Homo sapiens: one gene and its partners. The protein of the gene in region 1 interacts with the protein of each later gene in a biochemical or structural test. Each region holds a gene or a part of one and is shown on either strand. Other genes may lie near its edges. The genes, in order: SIRT7, UBTF, POLR1E and RRP9.

Region 1 (3,768 bases):
GGCCTTTCCCCTTTGTGATTCCCTTGCATTTTTCTGTGGACCTCAGAAGCCATCCTAGTCACAGGGGAGGCTTATAGGACATCTCTGGGGACCTTCTGCTGAACACCCTCAACCAATGGGGTGTAGTGGTTGATCTGCCTAGGTCCCCAGGGACCTGAAATGTCATGACCCAAGAGAGCATGGATCTGGGGCAGAGTGGCCCTTGCCAAACCCCGAGCCACTTCCCAACCTTGCCGGGACGGTGCAACCTCTTGCCCTCCCAGCCACTCCAGGTGCATCAGGGCTGGAGGAAGGACAGCCCCTCCCCACCACAGGCCCTCTTGACTCCTGGTGGTTGGACCTGTTGTGTGTTTTACTTTCTAAGGCTCTCTGGGGGGACGGAGCTGCCCCTGGTTTTGGGAGCCATCGGCGGGGCTCAGAACAGCCTCGCTGTGGCCGGGTACTGACCTCCCCACCACCACTGGCAGCCATCCCTCCCCTTGCCACCCGTTCTGCCTTCCAGGTGCAGCATGTGGTGTCTCAGAACTGTGACGGGCTCCACCTGAGGAGTGGGCTGCCGCGCACGGCCATCTCCGAGCTCCACGGGAACATGTACATTGAAGTGAGCAGTCCTGCAGGGACCCAGGGTCTCCATGGGCAGGCGGGTCCCACTCACTGTGCCCTCTTGCCTCTAGGTCTGTACCTCCTGCGTTCCCAACAGGGAGTACGTGCGGGTGTTCGATGTGACGGAGCGCACTGCCCTCCACAGACACCAGACAGGCCGGACCTGCCACAAGTGTGGGACCCAGCTGCGGGACACCATTGTGCACTTTGGGGAGAGGGGGACGTTGGGGCAGCCTTTGAACTGGGAAGCGGCGACCGAGGCTGCCAGCAGAGCAGACACCATCCTGTGTCTAGGGTCCAGCCTGAAGGTACGTGCCGATGACACAATGAGTGAACCGAGCCCCTGCCCGCCCGAGGGTGTCCAGCTCTGCGGCCCAGCACTGTACAGACTTGTCCCTTGTGTGTGTGCGGTGTCTGTCTGTCTGCTTCCACAGGTTCTAAAGAAGTACCCACGCCTCTGGTGCATGACCAAGCCCCCTAGCCGGCGGCCGAAGCTTTACATCGTGAACCTGCAGGTAACTCGGGTGCTGAGAGCCACGTCCTTAGATCTGGGTCTTAGAACGCACAGCCAGAGACACCCCACACCCATGCACCAGGGCGGTCTGATAGGGCCCCCGTGGGTGCTCAGGGAGCACCGACTGAGCCCGTAGGGGCCAAGGCTGACAGGCCACCGGGAAGGGTTGGGCTGCTGTTACTCTCACTCGGCTTTCCCTGTCCTCAGTGGACCCCGAAGGATGACTGGGCTGCCCTGAAGCTACATGGGAAGTGTGATGACGTCATGCGGCTCCTCATGGCCGAGCTGGGCTTGGAGATCCCCGCCTATAGCAGGTGAGTGAGCCGCTGCAGCAGCCTGCTTCCCCGCACCTCTGTGTGCTGGGCCTTGTCTGTCTTCTCTCGTGAGCTGAGTGTGGAGGAAGCTCTGAGGTGTTTGCAGTGGTGCCTGAGGCATGACTGAAGCGTGGTGGTCTCCAGAGGGCCTGACCTCGGTGGTTGGCGGAGACCCTGCGTGTGCCACTCCTGCCCTGGCTGATGTGGCACACACAATCCCCGCGGGGAGAGGGATTCTGCCCGCGTGCTCCTGCTCCAGGCCTCCCCGTGGAGCTCTCCGAGATGCCTGGTGGGAAGCATCTGGAGGGGACGAGCACTCGGCAGCTCTGGTCAGACAGAATCTGTGTGCTTGGTTTTGGGAGTTGGCGTACTTTGGGAAAGCTTAAACAAACTGTGCCTTAATACAGAATTTGTGATAATTTAGACTTGGTGTATGTATTGAGTAAAAAGTTTACACTCTCTTTCTCTGTGAATTTTCAGGGTCTTATAGGGGAAATCAATAACTTCTTTTAATCAAAGGGTTCAAGAAATTAAGGATCCCTTCACCTTCTGGGCCTGGCACTTCTTGTATGTTATGTGTGTGGTGTTCTGTGATGTGGGCTATCGTGTACTGTATTTTTTTTTTACATTAACTTAGCTCATTTTCCTTATCAGTGCGTATCTGTATCTTAAGTTATGATCTGTGGTTCTGCATCTCCGTCAGACACATGCTTTCTTCACGGGGTCGTCTGTAGGCCACGCCTCCCTAGTCAGCTGGGAAGGGGGAGAGGGTCTGGTCCACCTGCCCCAGCGGTACAAGTGGAAGGTGGGGCCCAGAGTTGCTAGTGACTCATCCCTGGAGACGGAGGCAGCCCTGGGGCCACTGCTGCCCCACCCTGTGTGTGCACGCCGCTCAGTGGTGGACAAGGACACGGAGTTTTGAGGAGACCGAGCTAGTGTGGGTGCCGACCTTTGAGTCACCACCTAAGAGGTGACCTCTCCCACATCCGTTCTGCAGCTTGGTAACAATGAAGCTGCCGCCAACCAGAGCCCCGCCGCAGTTGACACGGGAGGGAAGGGGATGGGAAGGCAGGGACCGCAGACAGCTTTCCCGAGCTGGGGCAGGTGTGACTGCGAGAGGCTCCCAGGCCCGCCTGATGCCGCTTTCCCTTTTTGGCAGGTGGCAGGATCCCATTTTCTCACTGGCGACTCCCCTGCGTGCTGGTGAAGAAGGCAGCCACAGTCGGAAGTCGCTGTGCAGAAGCAGAGAGGAGGCCCCGCCTGGGGACCGGGGTGCACCGCTTAGCTCGGCCCCCATCCTAGGGGGCTGGTTTGGCAGGGGCTGCACAAAACGCACAAAAAGGAAGAAAGTGACGTAATCACGTGCTCGATGAAGAACAGTTGGCACTTTGCAGATGGCCAGTGTCACGGTGAAGGCTGGGTTGCCCCCACGGGTCTAGGGAGAACGAACTCTTTGGGGATGACATTTTCACCGTGACATTTTTAGCCATTTGTCCTTGAGGAAGCCCCTTGCACTGCTGCGGTTGTACCCTGATACGGCCTGGCCATCGAGGACACCTGCCCATCCGGCCTCTGTGTCAAGAGGTGGCAGCCGCACCTTTCTGTGAGAACGGAACTCGGGTTATTTCAGCCCCGGCCTGCAGAGTGGAAGCGCCCAGCGGCCTTTCCTCGCTCACCAGGCCAGTCTCAGGGCCTCACCGTATTTCTACTACTACTTAATGAAAAAGTGTGAACTTTATAGAATCCTCTCTGTACTGGATGTGCGGCAGAGGGGTGGCTCCGAGCCTCGGCTCTATGCAGACCTTTTTATTTCTATTAAACGTTTCTGCACTGGCTTCCGGTGTCCCCGAGTGGTCGGCGCGGGCTCCCCGGGCTCAGGTCTGCCGCCTGGCAGCTCGGTCGTGGCTTAAAACTCCCTTGGTTGGACAGGGGACAACTGTAGATTATTGTGCCAAAAAATAAGAAAAAAAACTCCCCTGGTTGGGACAGCGCCCCGTGGAGGTTCCCGGAGGTGGCGGCGGTGGGACGGTCCCCACGCCGCACTGCCCCGCCAGCCGAGCGCCAGGTGTGGGCGGTGCGGAGAGGCCAGGTGTGGGTCGGGGGGCGGGGCTCGGAAAGCGCGGCACACGCCATTGGCTGTGCGTTTGGAGGGGGCGGGACTCTGTCAGGGGCTCACGCCATTGGCCGTGCGCGGAGGTGCGGTGGGGCGCGGCCTTCGGGGGGTGGGGCTCGGGGCGGAGGGCGGGAGGCGGGGCGGGGGAGGCGGGGGCGGGGCTCGGGCCGAGCGGCGCACGCCATTGGCCGTGCGCAGCGGGTGAGGCCCGCGTGACGGCCGCT
Region 2 (7,030 bases), about 38 Mb from region 1:
GCTTCTTGGGTTCTCCCTGGAATTTCATCTTCTTGGAAGAATTTGTAGCAGCTGGAGGTGCCCGCATCTCACTCAGCTCTCTCTGGAGGGAGAAAGGTCACGCTCACCCCCCAGTCCCACCCCCAAAATACTGCTGCCTTCTGCCTCATGCCATCAGCACCTTAGCTGGCTGTCTTTTTCTGTGCCAGGGAGGAGGAGAAACAGGTAGCTAGTGAGCAACTTCCTAACAGCTCACGTCTGAGGCAGGCACCACAGTTTACAAGTGCTTTCACAACTGCTCGCATCCTCCGAGTCAGCCTGGAGGTTAGCAATGTCACCCCCACCTTACTGATGAGAGACAGAGGTTCAGAGAAGGAAGCTGAGACTTGCTGAGAGTCACAGACCAAGGCTGGGACTTCTTGCTCAGAGCTGCCCAACCAAAGGGGAGTTCCCGAGCTTTCAATGAATGGGGTGGCCCCAGCCCCATTCCTACCTCATATCGCTTTTGGTCTTCGGCTGCCTTCTTAATCCACATCAGTTTCTCCTTCTTTTCCATGTTATTCCAGGTCATTTCCATGGCTTTCAAGGCCTTCACCCGGTCATTCTGGGGACCAATAAGGGTATCAGCCGTGGGAGGGGTCACCCGGGGCTAGAGGCTGCAGTACTACCCTTTCCCACCCCTGTCACCTTGAAGCGGGCCAGGTAGTCGCCGATAACGCTCTGTTGCCAGATCTCCTCAGCTCTTTTGGGGGACTCGGGCAGCTTGCCCCGTTCCTCGCGCTCCCCGCCGGGCTTCCTCTCCGACTGAGCCTTGAGCGCCGCCTCTCGGGCCTTGTACTTGGCCTGCGGGGATGGCCCGGGCGTCAGCCTTCCACCCACCCCCAGGGGGCGCGCGCTCCCCGCGCAGCAGCCCAGGCGCTCCCGCCGGCGGGCAGAAGCATGGGCTGGTGCAGATGTCTCCCGCCTGGGGCTCGCCCCCGCCTGGTCTGCGGCGCTCAGCTGACAGCTTCCCGCCTTCCGGCTGCTGGGCGCCGGCCCCACGTCCCAGCCCAGGCACCGCGTGGCTCAGGCGGCCAGGGGCGAGGTGGCACGGCCCGCCAAGGGGAAGAGGGGGCCCTGGCAGCCCCCCTGGGGGCACAGCGCTCCGCCAGGCAGCCTGACCTTCTTCTTCTCAGACAGGTCGTTCCACATTCGGGCCAGCAGGCGGGTCAGCTCGCTCTCGGAGAGCTCAGGCCGCTCCTCCTGCAGCTGCCGCCGTTTCTCCTCCGAGAAGATGAACATGGCCGACACGGGCCGCTTGGGCTTCTCGGAGCCGCCCTGTCCAGGTGCAGAGGGTCGGGGTCCGTGGGTGCTGCCAGGGAGCCCAGTCTTGCCCACCCCCGCCTGCGCGGCCGCACCCTCTGCCCACCTTGCCCCCTTCCTGGGCTGGCTTCTTGGAGGCGGGGCTGGTGGCCTGCTTCTTGTTGATGTTCAGCATCTTCTCTTCCCCCAAGACCCGCTGCTGCTCCTCCTCAGGCAGGCTCTGGACAGGAAAGAGGAGCACGGGGCTGCATGCCTGGCACCCAGACTGCATGGTGCCCTATCTCCAGGGGCTCACCAGGGCTCTGCCTGCCAAGTCCCAGTCTTCTCTGCCCACTGCCCCACCGGAGGAACACTCACCTCGAGGAAACGGAGCAGCTCCACCTCGTAATCTTTCTTTTTCTGGGAAAGTGAGTGGAGTCAGGATCAGTCTGGAGACAGTGTCACCACAGACCCTGCAGTACTCGGAGGACAGTGACCTTCAGCGGGCCTCCAGAGCCTGGGTGTGGGCTGGACTCCCTGCCTGGACGGGCTCAGTTGCTAAGCCCAGCCCAGCCCCACACTGTATTGGAGGCAGGTACCCAAGGCACACGCCACCAGGGACTGACTGGCCCAAGATGGGATCAGACCTCATGCTTCAAAACCCCAAGGCAGGGTGGCCCCTGCCACAGCTCACCTGATCACACTTCTTGTGATAGGCGTCCTTCTCCTTCTGGGACAGCAGCTTCCACTGCTGGCTGCACAGCACCATGCGCTCTGTGCTGGGCACGTCCTTCATGTTGGCCATGAGCTCTGCGCAGTACAGCGAGTAGCTGTTCCTATCAGAGCCGCGGGGAGAGAGGTGCAGCCCGTAAGCGAGCAGGGCAGCAGGCCTTCTCACCTGCAGAGCCCAGCCCAACTTCCCAGCTGCCCACTCGCCCACCCATCCCAGGGCAGCGCTCACGGAGGTGGCTTGGTGGGTCGCCCGTCAAACTTGTCCTTGAGCTGGCGTTCGGCCTTGGTGAGGGTGGACTTGGTGATACCCTCCTCACTGATGTTCAGCTCTGGGTGCTTCTGGATATAGTCTCTCATGATCTCCTGCAGAGCCAGGTGGGGGGACGGAGGGCAATGGGGTGTGGAGTTAGCTAGGGCAGGGGCAGGGGGAGAGCCGCTGGGGAGGGCAGGCAGGGAGCAAAGCTGGGGGTGGCTGCGCGTCAGTGGTGTCACACGAGACGTGGTGCCCTGCCCTGCCCTAGCCTGAGATCTCATGGGGGTGGGGGGTGGGGAAGGTAGGGGCAGAGGTGAGGGGCCCAGAAGGCCCCTCCCTCAACAGAGGGATGGGGAGTGACACCTCCCGCAGAGTGCGGTGGCCACGGAGTCGGAGGGCAGAGGCTCGTGAAGAGCCGGACGGGGAGGAGCGCAGCGGAAGCCTAACCTCGTACTCCTTCCGCTGCTCCAGGGCCTTATGAATCCATTTCAGCCTCTTTTTGTCCGAGAGCTGAGACCACTGCTTCCCCAGGGAGTCCTTCACCTCCTTCGTAGTGGCCTGCAAACCAAAAGCCGTCAGACACGCACAGGCAGCCAGGGGCAGGGGGAGGGGGGAAGGGGGAAGGGGGCACAGAGGCCCCCGCCCCCTCAGGCCATGGGAGGTCACATCAGTGTCCCCCACAGGCCAGGAGGGGAAGGCGGAGAGGCGGGGATCCCGCCTGGGTGCAAGGGGACTGGCTCATACACGCACGCACACACGCACACGCTTGCACGCCAGCTGGCCCGGGCCCTGTCCATGCAGCCCACCCCTGGGGAGGGGCCTCCTCTCCTGCTCCCCTGCACCGTGCCCGGCCGACCTGGCGCGGCTCCCCCCTGGCCACCGCCGTGCATCCTCCACCCCCAACCCTTGGCCGGACACTCACATCTGGCCGCACTTTGAGATACACCTTCTTCTCGTGGGTGTACCACAGCTGCTGGGGGGTTTTGGGCTTCTCTGGGATGTCCGATTTCTTGGCATTCTGGATTAGGTCGGGGTGATCCTCCCTAGCCAGGACACGGGGAGCAAGGATCAGCAGGGGACGCTGCCAGGGCAGACTCAAGCTAGCTGCCCCACCCACCAAGCCTCCTGGGCCTTTCAGCTGGGGCTCAGTGGGACGGTGGCTGCCTGCCTGTCTCTGTCCCTGAGCATGACACACTAGGGCTCACATGTGACCCATCCTCTTCCATGCCTCAGAGATGGCAAACTCAAGGCTCTGGCCAGGGTTAGCCTATTCTGCTGCCCCCAGTGCCCCGTGGCCCTCCTCTGGGCTCCACTGCCTTACCTGAATCGGGCCAGGTTTCGCTCGAACTCCTGTTTCTCTCTCTGGAAGTCCTGAATATATTTCATCTGGGGGGAGGAGGGGATGGGGTCACTCAGGACCCAAGGGTATCTCACCCTGAGCTATGAAGGCCACCCAGACCCCTCCTCGCTGGCTCTTCTGCCTCCCACGCTGTGATGCAGGGAGTGGAGGCTGGCGCCCTGCCCGCCTCCTGGCGGGACTCACCACAGAGCAGACCTGCTGGCTTCTACCACAGATGGTGGGAGCTGCAGGGGTCGCCCAGACACTGAATCCTACATCCTATTCTCTCCTTCTGAGCAAGAGTCCCAGAAGGGGGCCATGGCATTACCCACGGTCACACAGTGCGCAGTGGCAGCGCTGAGCCTCCCCCACTCGTTTCTCCAACACCATAGAACTCTCACAGTGGCGTCGGGTGCAGGCCTTGCTCCTGTCACTCCCTCTTCTCACTGTCTGTGGCAGCTGACATTAGTCTGTCCCCTTGTACGTAGCCTCTACATCTATGGCCAGGGCTGGGCTGAGTCCTGTTTCCAAGGCATGAGGGGAGATTGTGTGGAGGGGAACCCAGAGCGAGTTCTTCCAATACAAGTCTCAGCCAGCTACCCTGCATCTTCCTGCCCAGTTCTCACACCATCACCTTCTTCTCTTTCTCCAGGATCCTGGCTGTCTGGCCCCTCCAGCCCTCCCTCCCTCAGCCCACTCATTCTTTCCCACCACTTGGCTTCCCTTCCCTTCATCACCCCCTTTTTAGCCTCCCCACTCTCACCTCACTCCCTCCCTGCATCTTTCCCCACTTCTCCATAGTCTCCTTCTTGTTCCTCCTTTCCAATGTGTCTCTTTCTCTTCCTCATCGACCTTCTCTCTTGGCTCCCACACAATGTCCATCTCTTCTTTCATCCTCGCGGGCTCACAAGAGTGGCACTGGCAGGTGCCAGGAGCTCATGGCAACTGAGCCCAACCCCTGCCTCTTATAGAAGCACCAGGCATAGAAAGGCAGTGCTCCTTTCCCACAGTTCCCACAGAAAACCAGAAGCAGAGCTCAGCCTCCTCTTCCCCCATCTCAGTCCTCCTCAGACAAAACAGTTTTAGACCTGAAGGGGACCACACAGACCTGGCTCACCTCACATAAAGACCAGGCCCACAGAAGTGAAATGACTTACCAAAGGCCCCATACACAGCGGTTCAGTGGCAGAGCCAGGAGAACAGGCCCAAGTCTTGTGTCCCCCAGGACAGCACCTTGTCCACTCTACCAGTTTCTTCTGGCCTTCCCTGGCTCTGACTCTAGAGCTTGGCCTCTCCCTCCCATCCCATGAGAGTGTTTGGGTGTGTGCAGTCAACTGTCCAACATCCTCATCAAAGGGGTCAACAGTTCCAGCAATCCATACCCCTCTCTGCTTGGGCAGTGGTTGCAGACAGCTGGCTTTTTTGGGTACAGCACCAAGGGCATGTGAGTCTGCAGCCAGGGTATGCCAACCAGGAAAAAGGGCTACTCATAGCATGGCAGCGGCCAGTGCCCCCTTTTGAGAACTGGCTGTGTATGACTTTGTTTCCTCTCCAAGCAGATGTGCTTCTTGTCTTTCCTGCTGCCCTTCCCCATCTATCCCTGGCTCTGTCTCCTTGTCCCGTGTCTCTTCTTTGTGTCCTCTGTCCCCATCCCATCTTCCTCGTGTCCCATCTGCAGGCTCCTCCAATGTTTTGCTGCCTATCTCTGGGAGGGACCTCCTGAGCTCTGTGACTGAGCCCTGCCTGGGAGGCTTAGGCAACCCTCCACCCAGAGTTAATGCTTTGATGGTCTGGGACAGTGCCCGACCTCTGCAAGGAACAGTATGAGGCCAGGAGGGACAATGTGTGTCCTTGAGTGAACACGTGTGCGTGGAGAAGTGCACTTCACAGGTGGACGTGGCAGTAACAGCACTGGACTGGGACTCTGGGGCACTAAATCCTGCTCTAGCATCAATAGTTGTGTCACCCGGGACACTTAACCCTCCTGCACCTCAGTTCCTTGCCCACAAAACTGGGATAACCTTTTCCTAGGGTTACCTTTATAAAGACATTGCAAGTATCAAATGAGACCATGACGGGAAACGTCATAGAGGGTGAAGAAGTGCTGCGGAGCCTAACAGTGAGGATGGGTGTATGGGGGAGAGAGAGCTTGAAACAGAATGCTGTGGGTTTTCTGTAGGGGGAAAGGTTGGTCTGAGCACCTGCTGTCTGGTTTACATCTGTGATGGTGCCTGTGCCTGACCATGTGTGGGCCGAGGAAGGGGCAATCAGGTGTGGCTGCCCAGGACCTATTCTGCTGTGCTGACTCACCCTCATCCCTGATGCCAGGTTTCTCCAAGGCCTACCTCCAACTGACCCACACCACACCAGCTGCTCCCAGCCTCTCCCCTCCTCCCACCTTAACTCTCCTCCCCCCACCTTCTTCTTCTCCGGAAGCTCCTTGTATTTCTTGGACAGAATCTTGGTTAGGTCCAGGTTGCTCATCTCAGGGTGGAGTTTCGCATACTTGGCCCGCTTCTCCATGAAGAAGCGGAAATAAGGGGTCAGGGGCTTCTTTGGGAAGTCTGGGTGTTTCTGGAAGAAGGGACAAGGACACAATGGAGGTCAAATACATCCCTTCTTTGGACCTTTCCTCCCATACCCCTCATGCTCCTCCTCCTAGTAACTCACCTTGAGTTTTTTGCCTTTGTAAGGATTTTTAACATGTTCCTGAGCATCGAGGATCAATTCTGTCAATGTACGGAACTTCCTCACCTGGAGGAAGAGGGGTGGGAGGAAGGGGAAGTTGGGAAAAGGAAAATGCCACACAGTAGTATACCCCCATCTTATAACGGGTCTCTTCTACTCTTTACTAGACTAAATTTACCAAAGAAGAGCAGAGGCCAACAGCCAAATGAAGCAGGCAGCATGACACCCAGGCACTGGCCCATGCCTACCGCAGAGGCCCAGGCAGTCAGTACACACCAAAGGCCAGCAACAAGGGGACTAACTGACCTCAACCTGGTTGTCCATGCTAACACCTCCGTCAATCTCAGCATGCTAGCACCTCCGTCAATCTCAGCACAGCTCAGGCTGTTTGGCTCAAGACCACTCAGATAGAAAGTGGCATAACTTTAAGCCAGTGCTGTCAACCGTGCCACCTCCCAAAATGCAAAGGGGCAGGTAGAGAGCTAACGGGAGACCACATGAATGCCTCTCCTGGTCTCTTTCCTTCCTGTTTACAGCCTGTTTCACTTCCCCCACCACGCTGAGTGGGGGGTATGTGTGTATGTCAGAAAAGGGGGATCAGTTACCTCATTAGAAATCTCCACCCATTTGAGCTTGCACATGTCTCCAGAAAAGTCTTTAAATGCTACTTTTTCCCAGTCCATGTGTGATTCGGTGGTTTTGAACTTGGAGCTGTCATTGGATGGAAGGTTGTTCTTCATGCATTCCAGCAAAGTCAG
Region 3 (7,030 bases), on another chromosome or scaffold:
TGAACAGGAAACAGGGCCAGGTGCAGTGGCTCACGCCTGTAATCCCAGCACTTTGGGAGGCTGATAGGGTCAGATCACCTGAGGTCAGGAGTTCGAGACCAGCCTGGACAACATGGTGAAACCCATCTTTATTAAAAATGCAAAAATTAGCCGGGGATGGTGGCGTGCGCCTGTAATCCCAGCTACTCAGCAGGCTGAGACAGGAGAATTGCTTGAACCCGGGAGGTGGAGGTTGCAGTGAGCCGAGATCATGCCACTCCACTCCAGCCTGGGTGACAGCAAGACTCTGTCTCAAAAAAAAAAAAAAGAAAGCTGTACAAATAATGCTTTTGAATAATCCATTGTTATTTGTATTATTTCTTCTTTATTCAGGCACTTTGTGGGAATTTTGAACAAGACCTCTGGCCAAATGGAAGTATATGATGCTGAATTGTTCAACATGCAGCCACTATTTTCAGGTAGGTCCCAGTCATGAAAGCTGACAGAAATAATGCATAGTTTGGGTTTGCTGGATGAGTTGGCTTGAGTTTTAGATTTATAAAACACATTTTATAGTTATTTTAATTTATTTATTCTGTTTTTTCTGCTTTGTCTGTGTTGAGAAAATGGTTTTTTATATACACACTGTTTTTTGTTTTTTGTTTTTTTTGAGATGCAGTCCCACTCTGTCACCCAGGCTAGAGTGCAGTGGTGTGATATTGGCTCGCTGCAACTTCCACCTCCCGGGTTCAAGTGATTCTCCTACCTCAGCCTCCCGAGTAGCTGGGATTACAGGTGCACATCACCACACCCGGCTAATTTTTGTATTTTTAATAGAGACAGCGTTTTACCATGTTGGCCAGGCTGGTCTCAAACTCTTGACCTCAGGTGATCCACCTGCCTCGGCCTCCCAAAGTGCTAGGATTACAGGCGCTAGCCACTGCGCCCGGCCTAGAGTTTTTTATTCAGCACACACTTATTGATAACCTAATGTACCAGGCACCAAGCTGGGGCTGTGGATGTGGCAGTAAGCAAGACAGACACAGATCCTGTCCCCATAGTGTTTAGAGACTTGAGGTCAGAGGTTCATAAAAGCAATCTGAGCAATGATCAGAGCAGAATATTAGAGGACATGTCTGATATAAAATCTTTTCCATAAAAGAACTTCCTTCATTCTTTTTATTTTTATTTTTTATTTTTGTAAATTACTTTATTTCTTCCTTGATCATTTCAAGGGACTATCTTCAAACCAGTACAAATATTTCATACGTAATACCTGGCCATTTTCTAAACAATCGAGGAGTTTGTTGCACAATAAGCTACCTCACGTCTTTCAGCAAGAAATACATTAAATTTGAAGAGTAAAGACATTACATAATGAACTAGGACATAATTAAAATTTGCCTTAAATATTTCTTTGGGGGAGAGAACACCACACTTCTACTCAATGAAGAGAAACATTTTTACAGTCCAGAGGTCTTTCATTTTTTAAACACCTGTCACGCCATGAATTCATAGGGAATAGGTTCCAGCAGCTCAGGCTGCTTCCCATTGGTTCTCACCAAGTGTGCTTCTCTGGGTGGAGCAGGCTGGCGCTTCAGTTGAACCCAGGTACCTTTCTCTTTTGCTTCTGTCTTTTTCTAATCATCTTTCTTCACCCGTTTCATGAAGCTTTCTCGGCTCTTAGAGTGCTTAATGTGCTCAATACGCACACTAATTCTCTTGGCAAGAATCTTGCCCTTGTTTGTTTACAACAATGCCAGCAGCATGCTAAACTGTAGACGCTTCCAGTTTAGCCATGGTAACACTTGAGGGGCATTCCTTTTTGAACAGTACCCATTCCCTTGATGTCTACGATATCACCTTTCTTATAGATTCACATATATGTGGCCAAAGGAACAACTCCATGTTTTCTAAAAGGTCTAGAGAACATATATTGGGTGCCTCTCCTCTTTCCCTTTGTGTTTGTCATTTTGATGAATTACTGCAAGATGGCAGTTCTGGCCGAAAGGGTTCTTTCTTAATTCTTAACTGTTATAGTTGGGGTAAAGAGGTTTTAGAATTTCTGGTAGACAAAGGAAATTGCTTATTAAGTTGTATAGTAACTTTCACGTTGAGGACAAGTCTCTACACTAATTTGAGGAAGATCTATTTTTTTTCCCTAATCCAGTGGAAGAATTTACATTGTTTCTCTGCTTTGTCATCTTAGAATGCTCAGGGCTAGAGTGAGATCTTCCAAAATAATAAATAAAAGGGTCACACTCAAGGGGCTTCTGTTCCTTAAATCTCAGAACTTGAATCCTTAGTGATGCCCTTAAATACTGGGAACCATGGCAGGATAGGGCGATAGACAAGAAAGAAACATTGGGAGCATTGTGAATCTGCCTGATACCTCAGAGGCATTAGTTCCAGTTTTATTCTCTCAAAGCAGTGCTTCCATCCCTTTTGAGAATCTGCTAAGGACCTGGACCTACTTCTGAGAAACATATATGATACACAAATACATATATATGGGATTTTTTTTAATATGGGATTTTATACATAATTTTTTTTTTTTTTTGAGACCCAGTCTCGCTTTGTCACCCAGGCTGGAGTGTAGTGGTGCAATCTGGGCTCACAGAAGACTCTGCCTCCCGGGTTCTAGCGATTTTCCTGCCTCAGCCTCTTGAGTAGCTGGGGTTATAGGTGTGCGCTACCACACTCGGCTAATTTTTGTATTTTTAGTAGAGATGGGGTTTCACCATGTTGGCCAGGCTGGTCTCAAACTCGTGGCCTCAAGTGATTCACCCACCTTGGTCTCTCAAAGTGCTAGTATTACAGGTGTGAGCCACCGTGCCTAGCCAAATTTTACACGTAATTTTAAAGGTCTCTTGAGTCCGGACACCCATCTGTGAATTTCCTAGGTGTCCCCCTGCTTTGCAAACATATATAACTATATTTAAATCATCTTCCAACTGTTCTTGTAAAATCCAGGGAGGCAAGGAAAATTGTAATTTAACGTGTTGATTAAACATATTTTTGTTGTTATATGTAAGAAGTTTGTAAATATGAGTTTATTCTAGGTAGCACACACACAGAGATAACATTTAAGTCCTTACTATATGCTAGTCACTGTTCTAAGCACTTTCCATGCATATACCAACCTTCTGGAGTAAGTACTGTTGTTCTTTTTTTACCAGTGATGAAACTGGCACAGAGGTTAGATGACCTTATCAGGGGTGATGGCTGAGATAACAGGCAAGGCCACTCCAGAGCTTGTACTGTTGTGTACTAAGTTATACTGCCCTTATTTGAGTACTTTGTAGATGATTGGAGAGCATCGGTAAGTACCACATACCTCATGTTTATGCCTGCTTTTAGGTCTTTCACCAAGAAAGCAAAATTATTTTCTGGAAAGAGCCAAGGACTTGTTTTCTAATCCTGTCTCTGCCACTACCTGGTGAACTGACCTGGGGCAAGTAATTTCATCTGTGGGCCTTCTGTTTTTTAATTTCTAAAATGAAGAGGTTGGGCTGGATGACCGCTTGATTTGGCTAATTTATTTTCCAAGTTCTTTAACTGTATACTAAAGCTGCATATTAAATATTCACAGTATACACTCATGTTAGGCTCAGGGAAGTCCTATAGTAAAGAAATCTATTATTCTTAGATAGACAAATGAATATTAAACACTATTACTATTTGTAGGCCTCCCAATTGACTTTTCTTTCTCTCTGTTTTTGTGTGTTTTGATAGATGTATCAGTTGAGAGTGAACTGGCGCTAGAGAGTCAGACCAAAACTTACAGAGAAAAGGTGAGTGTGATAGAATTAAGATGTGGGACCTTAAGCAAGTTCCTTCTACACCTCGGGTTTCTCCATCAGTGAAATGAGCTTGTTGAACTCAAGGGTCTCCCTGGCTGCTCCCCGCTCATTCAGTCTGTTTCTCTGGACAATTAGTTTGTACCTGCAGAAGCCTCCTTGGTCCCACAGAGAACAGTCTGGCTCCCATCTGGGGCAGCTGAACACAGCTCTGTGCCAATGTTTGGAGTCGGTTCTCTGGGCTGATACAAGTGTAGCATAATGCTTGTTTTTAGGATTTAGTCCAAGTTTTAGAATATATTGGTTGTAGCCTGAAAACATTCACGTTAAAACAAAGTAAACTTGGGGATTTTCAATGTAGAAGGTCCCTACAAAGGTCATCTCACCCCAAGATGACAAACTGATTGAATCTTTGGTGCTGTGTGGAGCACTGTATTGAGAAGGGTTGTGAGGCTACTTTTTGCTTCAGGGGGAAGGAGTCAGTGATCTATTAGCCCTGTCTGTTACGGGTGTAAGATGGGAGAATTACCATTCTACTATTCCTGTCTGTTACGGGCATAGGATGGGAGAATGGTAAGCCATGTGCTACAGATTTGCCAGCCCTAATCCTAGTCAAGTCTTTATATCTTACTGATGGAGATGCTGTTGATTGATCAATCTGTTAATATCATTTGGTGCTTACAGCAGTCCTGTGAGGTAAATAGGTGCGATTCAGCCTTATTCACAGGTGAGGTAGTGATCACTCTGGGATGCTGAGAGTATCCCCATAGTGACACAGCTAGGAGGGGCAGCACCTACCTGTCCTGTCCCCAGTAACCAGGTTTATCTCATAAACAGATGGATTCTTGTATTGAAGCCTTTGGTACCACCAAACAGAAGCGAGCTCTGAACACCAGGAGAATGAACAGAGTTGGCAATGAATCTTTGAATCGTGCAGTGGCTAAAGCTGCAGAGACTATCATTGATACGAAGGGTGTGACTGGTAAGAAGTTGGAACTTGGGCTAAGAGTCTGCCCATAATGACAGCTTTCTCTTCTCTTGAGATCTTTTACCCACCCACACATGGAATGCTGGGAGCTAGGGCTGGATTCCTTTCAGCCTCTTGCTGAAGGCCTTCTCACGGACAGGTTCTGGAAGTAGTAAGAAACATCCGACATGGCTTTGTCTTCTAGTGATCCACAGTCAAGTACAGGGACAGGCATGGAATGGATACATGCCTGCCGTGCTTATGGTGCTGGGGTTATGGCCTGCAGGGCACAGAGGAGGGAGAAGGCCTCAGGTCTCTCCTTGTGCGTTGCAGGGAAGCTTTGGTCAAAAAGGCTGATGTGTTGATGGAAATGAGCCTCCAGAGGTGGCATTTCACTTTGGGATCAGTGGCTCTGTTTCCGGTATTCAGCAGCTGGAGTATTTAATTGTATTATTTTAAAATGTATTTATTGTTCAAATACATTATAAGAACATAAGAGCAAGTTTGTGTAAGAGTAGCTTTTCTTTTTACCGATTTTGGAGATGAGGTCTTGCTATGTTGCCCAGGCTGATCTTGAACCCTTGGCTTCAAGCAGTCCTCCCGCCTCAGCCTCCCAGGTAGCTAGGATTATAGGCGCACACCACTGTGCCCTGGGCAGAGCAGTTTTTCTATTAAGAATGAAATTCTAGTAATTTTTGGAAAATCTTTCCATACCCTATGATTATATAGATTTCAACACTTTCACAAATTTATTTATTGATTGATTGGAGATGGGGTCTTGCTCTATCACCCAGACTAGAGTGCAGTGGTGCAGACATGGCTCACTGCAGCCATAACCTCCTGGGCTCAAGTGATCCTCCTACTTCAGCCTCCCAAGTGGCTGGGATCACAGATGTGTGCCACCATGCTCAGCTAATTTTTTTAGTTTTTTGGAGAGACAGGGTCTTGCCATGTTGCCTGGGCTGGTCTCAAACTTCTGGGCTCAAGCCATCCTCCCGCCTTGGCCTTCCAAAATGTTGAGGTTACAGGTGTGAGCCACCACACCTGGCTGCGGAGTTATTCTTGTGGGGCAGTTACAGTGTTATATTCTGAAAGTTTTGTTCCACCTACAATGTGTGGCAAGTTTTTCTAGAAGTTAAGCCATTAAAGGCTATTTTGGACGTCCCTCACTTTTAGTTTCTCTCATTTTATATTGTAAATGTTTATGTATTAGCACAGCTGTCAATCCCAACTCTATTGTAAGTTACCTGAGGGGAATCTTGTCACCTCCACCTTCTCCAGTGCCTAGCTTGTGTTTGTTCATGAGTGAACATGGCAGTCCTGAAGCAGTCAGCCTGATGGGGAGGCGAGGTCACTTTGGCAGAAGCATTTAGACTTGGGGTTTCTGGACCATTGGTGGTCTGAAGTGCACAGACTGAAAAGAATGTTGGGGAACTGGAAACAAACAGGGTGATACATGGATTGTTTCTTTATTGAAAAGCTCTGGTCAGCGATGCTATCCACAATGACTTGCAAGATGACTCCCTCTACCTTCCTCCCTGCTATGATGATGCAGCCAAGCCTGAAGACGTGTATAAATTTGAAGATCGTATCCTTCTTGCAGTAGAAAAGCTGCCTTATTTCACAAGTTGAGATGTTTGCACGTGTGTGCAGTCAGGTTCTCTGAGGGTGTCTGTGTTCTGTGACATTCACAAGAGCTCCATCCAAACCTTTGCAGTTGCTCAGTGCTCTTGCCAGGAGGTTAACTTGGCTTCCTCACTAGCTGAGGGACCGGCCCCTGGGATTCAAATCCATTCCTCAGCAAAATGCCAAATGCCCACAGCTTAGACCTGTGGGGCTCACTCTCCATGGAGAGTCAAAATAAGAGTTGAACCAGCCAAATGCCCAAAGTCTAGGGCAGACCACTTTTGTTGAAGGAAGGGTTGGAGCTTAGAATTTCACCACCCAAGGGGTCCGGTCAGAAGGAAAATGCCTGCAGTGGCTTTGTGATGAGAAAAAGCAGAAAAGCCTGGGCAGGGAATGGGCTCTGGGCTGGGAGTCGGAGAACTGAGTCACCAAGCTCTGCCCCTATGTGATCTGCCCTGTGTGATCTTTGGCTCTCTGAGCCTGTTTCCCTGTCTGTGAAATGCCACTGCTATGAGATGACCTAGCTAGTTGGATGTTTCTATTTTGGTTGGATTATATTCTTGACCTGTAACTAGTTCTTTCCCCTGCGGAGTATGAAGCTCTTCAGAGCCCATCTGAAGCTTTCAGGAACGTCACGTCAGAAGAAATACTGAAGATG
Region 4 (7,561 bases), on another chromosome or scaffold:
TAACCATTAAAGGATTCCTCTCTTGGATTCACCATGAATTTCCAGTGGCCAAGGACTGGGCCCAATCCATCTTAGTGCCAACCCTCCCAGGGCTTGGCCCAGAGGGGCACCTCACCATATCCAGCTGACTTGCTGTTCTCTGAGGCAAAGTAGATGCCCTTGCCAACACGCCCACCAGAATGTGGCATGATGCGGAGCCCACTAGTGAGGATGGCGGCCACCACGGCCATGTTGGTGCCATGCCACAGCAGCTTCCGATTACCCAGTTTGGAGTGGGCCTGGAATCTGTCTTCCTGAGTGGAGAGGAAGTGAGAAATGGGAGTGATGCCACCCGAGCACTCAGTCGCCTTGCCCTGCTGCTTGTGACCAAGGCCTAGTGTCCCTCTGCTTACTCACGCGCACTCATGGCCGGCAGAAACTGACCAGAGCTGCTAAACGATTTGCTAAGGGACCGATTAGCCAAGGACATCTTCCTAAGGCACAGTGGTGATGGGGGAGAGGTGGGGGAACCTCCCTCACCTCCCCTTCTTGGTTTACTTTCCAGATGTGTTGAAGTGTAGGGCACCTGTGGTTGCTGCCAGTCTGTTCTAAGTAGGTCTGTATCACCTGTGGGGAGAGCAGAAGCTGGTTGCCAGGGTGGGAGGCTCAGGAGCTAATCCCCCATTTTTCTTCCCCCAGTCCCAAGCCCTCCTCAGGCCCTGGAGACACAGGAAGAGAAGGCTGAGGGCGAGTATTCCTCTGGGCACCTCGAGGGCAGGTGGGCAGAGGGACAGTGCCCACTGATAGCCTGGCCCCTCTGTGGGGCCCAACTCACCTTGTACTCAGGTGCTCCAGAGTCTAGCAGCTGCAGCTGGCACTTGAGAAGCTGGTAGTCTCGGTCCAGGGGGTGTGGCACCTCCTCCACCGTCTTCTCCTGCTCAGAGACTGCCTGCAGGGCCTGGGCCAGCTCGATGTCCGCCAGCACCTAGGATGATGGGCCCTGGCAGTTTGTCTTCCCACTTGACCTCTGGCCTCCCCTCTCCTCTCTCACATGACTGGTATTGTAGCCACCCCACCTGTGTGTCCCACCTGTCCCTCCCCACCCTATCTGTCTGCCCAGCCTTCCCCACCCGTCTGTCAGCCTGCCCAGGCAGTCCATCCTTCTGGGCCTTCTTGGCCACCTGCCCTTCATCTCGCTCGCCTAGGCTGTCTGTTCAGTGCCCCACTGCCTGCCCGCACCCCTGCCAGCCCTCACCAGCAGCATGTCCTTCTTGGCCTGCAGAAGCTCAGGGGAATTGATGGGCGGGGGCTGGCTGTGGCCGAAGTTGTGCGGGATGACGGTGTAAAAGTGTGAGGACAGCTCCTCCAGGCTTTGGCCACCATCCGTGGGGCCTTTCAGGGCCTCCTCCAGCGCCTCCAAGGCCTCGAAACCCCGTGCAATCTGTTGCTTGCTCAGCTTTCCCAGGGGCATCTTCTTCACATCTAGGGGGACAGGGGAGTGGGGAGACTCAGCCCCACAGCCCTGCCACCCTGAGGCCCCTGCCACCCTGCCTGCCTCTCACCCCTCACCCAGGTCCATGAGGGCCATGGTGTTCTTGAACATCTCCTTGCTGAAGATGTTAGTGATGAGCTTCTGCGTGGCTGGGTCCAGGGAGCAGGGCTGCACCCGCTTAGTCACAGTCCTCACTGGGCCTCTGTCCACCTGAAGATAGAGGGCACATGTGGGCAGGAGCAGCGGGGCAGGGCGTGACACCAGACAGAGACCAGCCAGCCTGAGGCCAGAGGGGAGTTCTGTGGCTGAGGCTGCGCAGCTGGGCAGTGGCAGAGCCCAACCAGCGGGAACTCTCCAACGAGTCCCCTCCCTCAGTCCAGGGCCTGCCCACCTTCCTTGGCCATCTCACCTTCACCACAGCTTCCTGGGCCTCATCCTCTGCCTGTACTTCGATAAGTGTGTACTTGCCCGGGTGAGACACAAAGTGGTCCCGCTCTGCCCAGTTGTTCTTGGTCTTTTCCCGAAATTTCTTCTCAAAGTCCTTCTTTGCATCTTCTAGCCTTGTGAAGTGGTTGATCTTTGACTGGCCGACCTCTCCCTGCAACCGACAGCCTTCAGGGGTATGCCCACCATCAGCATTTGCTGGCCTGTGTGTCGGGCCAGGCCCTGTGCTGAGTGCCCTGGGACAGTTGGGAGGTGCCCCCCCAAGTCAGTAGCTGTGGCCTTTTGAGGACCCTGGGGAGTATGTGCAGAGCAGGCAGGGCACTCACCACACGGCCCCAGCGGTTCCAGCAGGTGAAGAAGCGGTTGCTGTCTTGGAGCAGCTGGATGATGTAGAACTTGTTGTTGTTGTTCTCGATGTTGGTCTGGTTCAGGGTGCAGTTGTAGTCCTCATACACCTGGGCCAGAGGGGAGGTGGGGGGCAGGCTGGCTGGGGTCAGATGGGGTGCCTGGCCGTACACCGAGAGGGCTCTGATGGGGACAGGAGTCTGACGGCAGTGGGAGTCAGAGGGACCCTGTCTTGGAAGCTTGGGGGGGTCACTGCTCTTCCCTAGGGGATGCGGTGTGAGAGGACATGGCTAAACCCTGACATGGAGGTATGGGGGGTGCTGGGGGGGACACAGCTGGGCCCTGGATGGGGGAATCTGAGAGGGACATGGCTCTGCCCTGAGGGGACATGGGCAAGCGCCCAGGAGACTGATGTAGTCACAGCCTTTCCCTAAGTGCGGTGGGAGGAGGCCTGCATGGGGTCTGAAGGGCAGATGTGACCCGCCTGGACCTGACGGGACACAGCCCTGATGTCTGGGGTCAGGAGAACATGGCCTTGCTCTGGCGCTTACCTGGGGGCCTTGGGCTCCAAAACCAGAACAGAGTCCTAAGGGGGTGGCCTGGGTGTGTTTGTGCTTATCAGTGGGCAGGCTCTGGGCCTGACTGGGGACTGCAGCTCACCTGGGTCCCGGGGTTGCTGCTGAGTGGACATGTTGGATCCACGCGGATTATGCGCTTCTCTGCGGGTATGGCCTTGAGGGCCTCAGCGGTGGAGCGGAAGGGGTCCTCCTCCCTTCCTGCCTGCCGGCCCTTCTTCTTCTCAGGGCCCTCAGTCTGTACCCAGGGCTTCGGCTTTGGAGCCATGGCTGTCCTGGGGCACAGAGAGGCCCTTAGGCCTCCATGGTCTCCTCATCCCCAACGACCCACTCTCAGTCCCCACCCCTGCCCTGGGCCAGCACAGCACCAACTTGCCCCACCCCGGGTTGGCCCTTCGGTGGCCTCCCACTGCATCCTGTGTCCACTCTGACGGCATTCCCAGCCCCAGACCACACCCAGCTCTTTGTCACTCAGAAACACCCCTTTCCCCAGTCCCAAGTGCAAGGTTAGGACTCTGTCCAGTCTGCCCACTCTGGTCAACAGGGTCTGCCTGGCTCCCTACCCTCTGCAGCTCACCTGTGTGTCCTGAGGGGTAGGGAAAGTGAAAGGAGGCTCTCTCTCTTCCACTTCGGGGCTCCTCCCCCTGTGTCAGCTAGTTCAGCCCTGGCATGGTTGCCGGGCCGAGTCACCGAGCTATGGGGGAGGGTGGGCAGAGGATCCTGGGGGCAGGATTCTTGGGGCCAGATTATCCTCCCGGAGCTTAGAACCCAGAGCTGTAGAAGCCCTTCCCAATGGACTCAAGAGTTCTGAGGAGCCAGAACTCCGGATCAGTGGCCTTGAACTGATAGAGGGCAAAGGCCAGTCCCACCAGGCCTTGCCCTGCCCTGCCGTGGGCAGGACCATAGGACACTCACCCAAGAAAAGCAGGGACATGGGAGAGGTCCTGGCTGCCACCCGGCCTGGTTGTGTGCGCCTCCCAGGGCAGTCCCAGGTCTAGCAACTCTCCATGAGCCTCAGGCGTGAATTAGGGAGAGAATTCCCAACAATCGCCAGAGGCCGGGGATGAGCTTGTGTGGGGGATTAGACATCGGCTATTTGGCCACCAGTGGGGTGAAGCAGAGGCTGGGGCAGGCCGAGTCAGGCGACCAGTCCCACGGACGGGTGGACACTCGATCTGGCATATCCAAGGCCGGGGCAGTCGCGTCCGTAGCGCTGCTCATGTGGCCGGGGCCTGCAGCACGCATCTGCCGGTCGCGCGGTGACCTTGGGCCCGGATACAGACGCAGCCTCCCTCTCCCCGGGGCTGCTTGGATCCCCGTTGGGTCTAGCGCCGGGCTGCCCATGGAGGGGAGGAGTCACGTTCCAGAACGCGAAAGGGCGCCGCGTCTCTGGCGCCCCCCAGCGGCCAAGGGGCGCAAACACAGAGAAGGCTCTTGCTCCGACTTCGAAGTGGGCCAGCAGCAGAGCGCAAGCGCCACAGCATCAGGCCGGAAGCGCCGTGGAGATGCGGGCTTCCTACTCGAGCCTGGTGCGGGAGCCTAGGAACTTCAGGAGGCGGGGCTACAAGCGTGCATCCTATGGGTGCCTGGGGGCGTGGCAGAGCCTGCAGAAGGACCCAATGGAGCAGTAGGAGGCGGGGCCCGGCGGGCGGTGGAAGCCTATCAATACGCGGGGTCTTGCCAGGCGGCTGGGGAGCTGGGAGGGTTCAGCTGCCACGTGAGTTCTGCGGCCGCTGCTACACGCCTGGTGGGCAGCATGTCGGCAACAGCGGCTGCTCGTAAGCGGGGAAAGCCGGCCTCTGGGGCCGGGGCTGGCGCGGGGGCCGGCAAGCGGCGGCGAAAGGTGAGCATGGCGCTTCTGAGGGCCGCGGTCAGCCCTGCTACTGGGACAACCGTCATCCCATCCAGGGGACCTGGGTCCCGGCCCTTCCCCAGCCCTTCGCCCTGGACCCCTGCTGGAGTCAGCTTCGTCCCTCTCTCCGCGGGCCAAATCCTAGAAAGCCGTTCGCTTAACCCGGGAACCACCGCCTTCCCCATTCCTGGGGTTCTGAGGGAACCGAGGGGGGGGGGCCCTTGGTCAATGCCAGGGTGGTCTGGACCCCTGACCAAAGAAAAGACCGTATAATTCCCAGGCCGACTCTGCGGGGGACAGGGGCAAATCCAAGGGTGGCGGCAAGATGAATGAGGAGATCTCCAGCGACTCTGAGAGCGAGAGGTGAGCTATTCTTTTCCACATAGTGGGAGGGAAAACTGAGTCCCATGGTGCACGGAAGACTGAGTGAGTCCGAACAGAACTGAGCCTAGAATCCAAGACTCTGTCCCTTGGCTCTGAGATCGTGGCTGTTTCCTTTAGTTTCTGGTCCTGCAAAGTCTTGTTTCTGCGAGGTCTCTGGGTGGGAAGGACCCTGGGCCCCAATCCGAGGCCATTGAGACCTCCTTAGGTTTTGGCAGGGACTGGACTGATTGAGAAATTGCAGGAAAACAGAACAAAGCTGTCAAGTATTTCTTGCATCCTTCTTCCCTTGCCAGTTTTCCTGCAATTTCACAATTACTGGGCTCCCCGTCTCTTAACATGCCAGGCACTGCCTTTGCTGTTGGAAGTGCAGAGATAGGCAGGCGGGTGAAGAGAGTGTGTTGTAGTGAGGTGTGTATTTTATAGTTGTGTGTTCTGGGAACAGAGGAGGGACATTTAAATAGGGTCTTGAGAGATGAAGAGGAGTCTCTCACGGAGAGGTAGGGAAGGCATTCAGTGATCAGAGGAAAGTCTGAGGTGTAAGTGTGCCAGAATGGGCAGTAGAAAAGATGAAAGGGGGCTGGGCCTGGTAACTCATGCCTCTAATCCCAGCACTTTGGGAGGCCAAGGCGGGAGGATTGCTTGATGTCAGGAGTTTGAGACCAGCCTGGGCAACATAGCGAGATCTTGTCTGTACAAAAAAAAAAAGTTAGCTGGGTATGGTGGTGTGCACCTGTAGTCCCAACTACTCAGGAGGCTAAGGTTTGGGGATCCCTTCCCAGGGAGTTGAAGCTGCAGTGAACTATGATCATGCACTGCTCTCCAGTCTGGGTGACAGCAAGATCCTGTCTCTAAAAAAAAACCACACACAAAAACAGGAGGACTGGTCATAAGTGCATGTAGATTGTAGAGGGCTTTGGATGCCTCCCTCATTTCTGCAGGTGATGGGTGTGGTTGCTTGCAGGTTTTCAAAGGGTCAGGCATGGTGTCAGGCCTGACCCTGTGGGTTGGAGGCTCTTGGACCAGAGAATCCTAGTGCCTTCCCTATGAGTTGACTTTAGAACTCGCTTCTAAAATTGAGTATGTGTTGCCTTAATTTGCTCATGGAAAGAATGTACTTTTTTTTTTTGTTTTTGAGACAGAGTCTCACTCTGTTGCCCAGGCTGGAGTGCAGTGGTGCGATCTCGGCTCACTGCAACCTCTGCTTCCCAGGTTCAAGTGATTCTCCTGCCTCAGCCACCTGAGTAGCTGGGATTATAGGCCTGCACCACCATGCCTGGCTAATTATGTATGTTTAGTAGAGATGGAGTTTCACCATGTTGGCCAGGCTGGTCTCGAACTCCTGACCTCAAGTGATCCGCCCATCTTAGCCTCCCAGAGTGCTGGGATTATAGGCGTGAGCCACCACACCCAGCCATTAATGTACTTTTCTTAATCCGAAGGTTATTGTGGGTGAGTGTGTGCCAGGCTAGTGTGGGCTAAGTGCTTTTAAATATTTTTAGAATGTTGTGTTGTGAAGTGTGTTAGATACAGAAAAGTGAATGAGATATATTTGCACTACAGAGAGTAATGGTAAAATGGTAAACCTCTGTACACTTACTTACCACTTAGGTTAAGAACTAGAACATTTGCAGAAACTTAGAAGCCGCAACTGTCATTCCTAACTTGAGTTAATCATTTCTTTGGTTTCTTTGTTCTTCTTTTAAAAAATTAACATTTTCCATTTAGGTATAATTTACATATAGTAACATGCCCTTTTTAAAGTTATAGTTCAGTGAGTTTTGACAAACACACACAGTTGTGTGACCACCTCTACCCTGAAGGTAAAGAGTTTCATCACCCTCCAGAACTCCTCCTGCTCCTTCGTAGTCAGCCCCTCTCCTTCCCCCCAAGTCTCTGCTAACCACTGCCCCTAGAGTTGTGCATTTTCTAGCATGCCCTGTAAATGGAATCATAGTGTGTACTTCCCTTGCATTTCTTTAGCGTTCTGTCTCATGCGTATGAATCCTTCAACAATAGATTAATTAGTTTGGCTAAATTGAGTAGAAGTCCGAAGTTAACACAGGTCCCTTGGCTGTGTAAGGGAAGGGCAGCACTAGCCCTGTTGGCTGAAGGCTTGCCAGGCACAGGGCACTAAATTATTTCTGGGGCATGGTCCAGCTTTGGCTTTCCTGAGAGTTTTCAAGGTCCCTTCTGGGGAAGTCAGGGGCAGGTTTACGAGTGAGTCTTGGGAAACACGGTTAGGGGAGTGGACAGAGACTAGATGTCTTCAGGCACATGATCAGAGGGAGTGGGCTGCCTTGGATTCTCTGTGTCTGAGTGCCCATGACCTACCCCCAGCTCCCAGGAGCAGGTCAAAGCAGCACCTGTCTTTGGGTGAAGTGAGTACTCTCAGCTGGTCCGGGGGCTGGGGCATGGAGGGGAAAGCCGTAACTTCACCAGTAAAGGCCAATCCCCAAACAGTGAAGGTTCGCTTGGAACCTTGTTCCCAGG

What was found.
Region 2: the proteins of SIRT7 (region 1) and UBTF form a complex in vitro, tested with the Homo sapiens proteins (one study listed by BioGRID).
Region 3: the proteins of SIRT7 (region 1) and POLR1E form a complex in vitro, tested with the Homo sapiens proteins (one study listed by BioGRID).
Region 4: of the proteins of SIRT7 (region 1) and RRP9, one has a biochemical effect on the other in vitro, tested with the Homo sapiens proteins (one study listed by BioGRID).

What each region holds. Positions count from the first base shown.
Region 1 is NC_000017.11:81,911,437-81,915,204, reverse strand, and holds the end of SIRT7 (NAD-dependent protein deacetylase sirtuin-7), read left to right. Parts: intron 1-502; coding exon 503-601; intron 602-674; coding exon 675-911; intron 912-1,037; coding exon 1,038-1,118; intron 1,119-1,324; coding exon 1,325-1,431; intron 1,432-2,590; coding exon 2,591-2,789; 3' UTR 2,790-3,266; downstream 3,267-3,768. UniProt on the Homo sapiens protein: NAD-dependent protein-lysine deacylase that can act both as a deacetylase or deacylase (desuccinylase, depropionylase, deglutarylase and dedecanoylase), depending on the context. Specifically mediates deacetylation of histone H3 at 'Lys-18' (H3K18Ac).
Region 2 is NC_000017.11:44,209,652-44,216,681, forward strand, and holds part of UBTF (nucleolar transcription factor 1), read right to left. Parts: coding exon 6,878-7,030; intron 6,339-6,877; coding exon 6,255-6,338; intron 6,159-6,254; coding exon 6,003-6,158; intron 3,632-6,002; coding exon 3,567-3,631; intron 3,289-3,566; coding exon 3,168-3,288; intron 2,804-3,167; coding exon 2,693-2,803; intron 2,356-2,692; coding exon 2,222-2,355; intron 2,097-2,221; coding exon 1,955-2,096; intron 1,681-1,954; coding exon 1,639-1,680; intron 1,502-1,638; coding exon 1,388-1,501; intron 1,297-1,387; coding exon 1,141-1,296; intron 823-1,140; coding exon 667-822; intron 584-666; coding exon 473-583; intron 83-472; coding exon 1-82. UniProt on the Homo sapiens protein: Recognizes the ribosomal RNA gene promoter and activates transcription mediated by RNA polymerase I (Pol I) through cooperative interactions with the transcription factor SL1/TIF-IB complex.
Region 3 is NC_000009.12:37,488,943-37,495,972, forward strand, and holds part of POLR1E (DNA-directed RNA polymerase I subunit RPA49), read left to right. Parts: intron 1-372; coding exon 373-458; intron 459-3,339; coding exon of another isoform or gene 3,340-3,433; intron 3,434-3,714; coding exon 3,715-3,773; intron 3,774-4,616; coding exon 4,617-4,761; intron 4,762-6,226; coding exon 6,227-6,334; intron 6,335-6,947; coding exon 6,948-7,030. UniProt on the Homo sapiens protein: Component of RNA polymerase I (Pol I), a DNA-dependent RNA polymerase which synthesizes ribosomal RNA precursors using the four ribonucleoside triphosphates as substrates.
Region 4 is NC_000003.12:51,938,898-51,946,458, reverse strand, and holds the start of RRP9 (U3 small nucleolar RNA-interacting protein 2), read left to right. Parts: upstream 1-4,554; 5' UTR 4,555-4,591; coding exon 4,592-4,678; intron 4,679-4,951; exon of another isoform or gene 4,952-4,967; coding exon 4,968-5,050; intron 5,051-7,561. Other genes in the region: protein mono-ADP-ribosyltransferase PARP3, read right to left, coding at 116-293, 520-606, 815-964, 1,235-1,461, 1,549-1,681, 1,881-2,069, 2,242-2,370, 2,921-3,103. UniProt on the Homo sapiens protein: Component of a nucleolar small nuclear ribonucleoprotein particle (snoRNP) thought to participate in the processing and modification of pre-ribosomal RNA (pre-rRNA).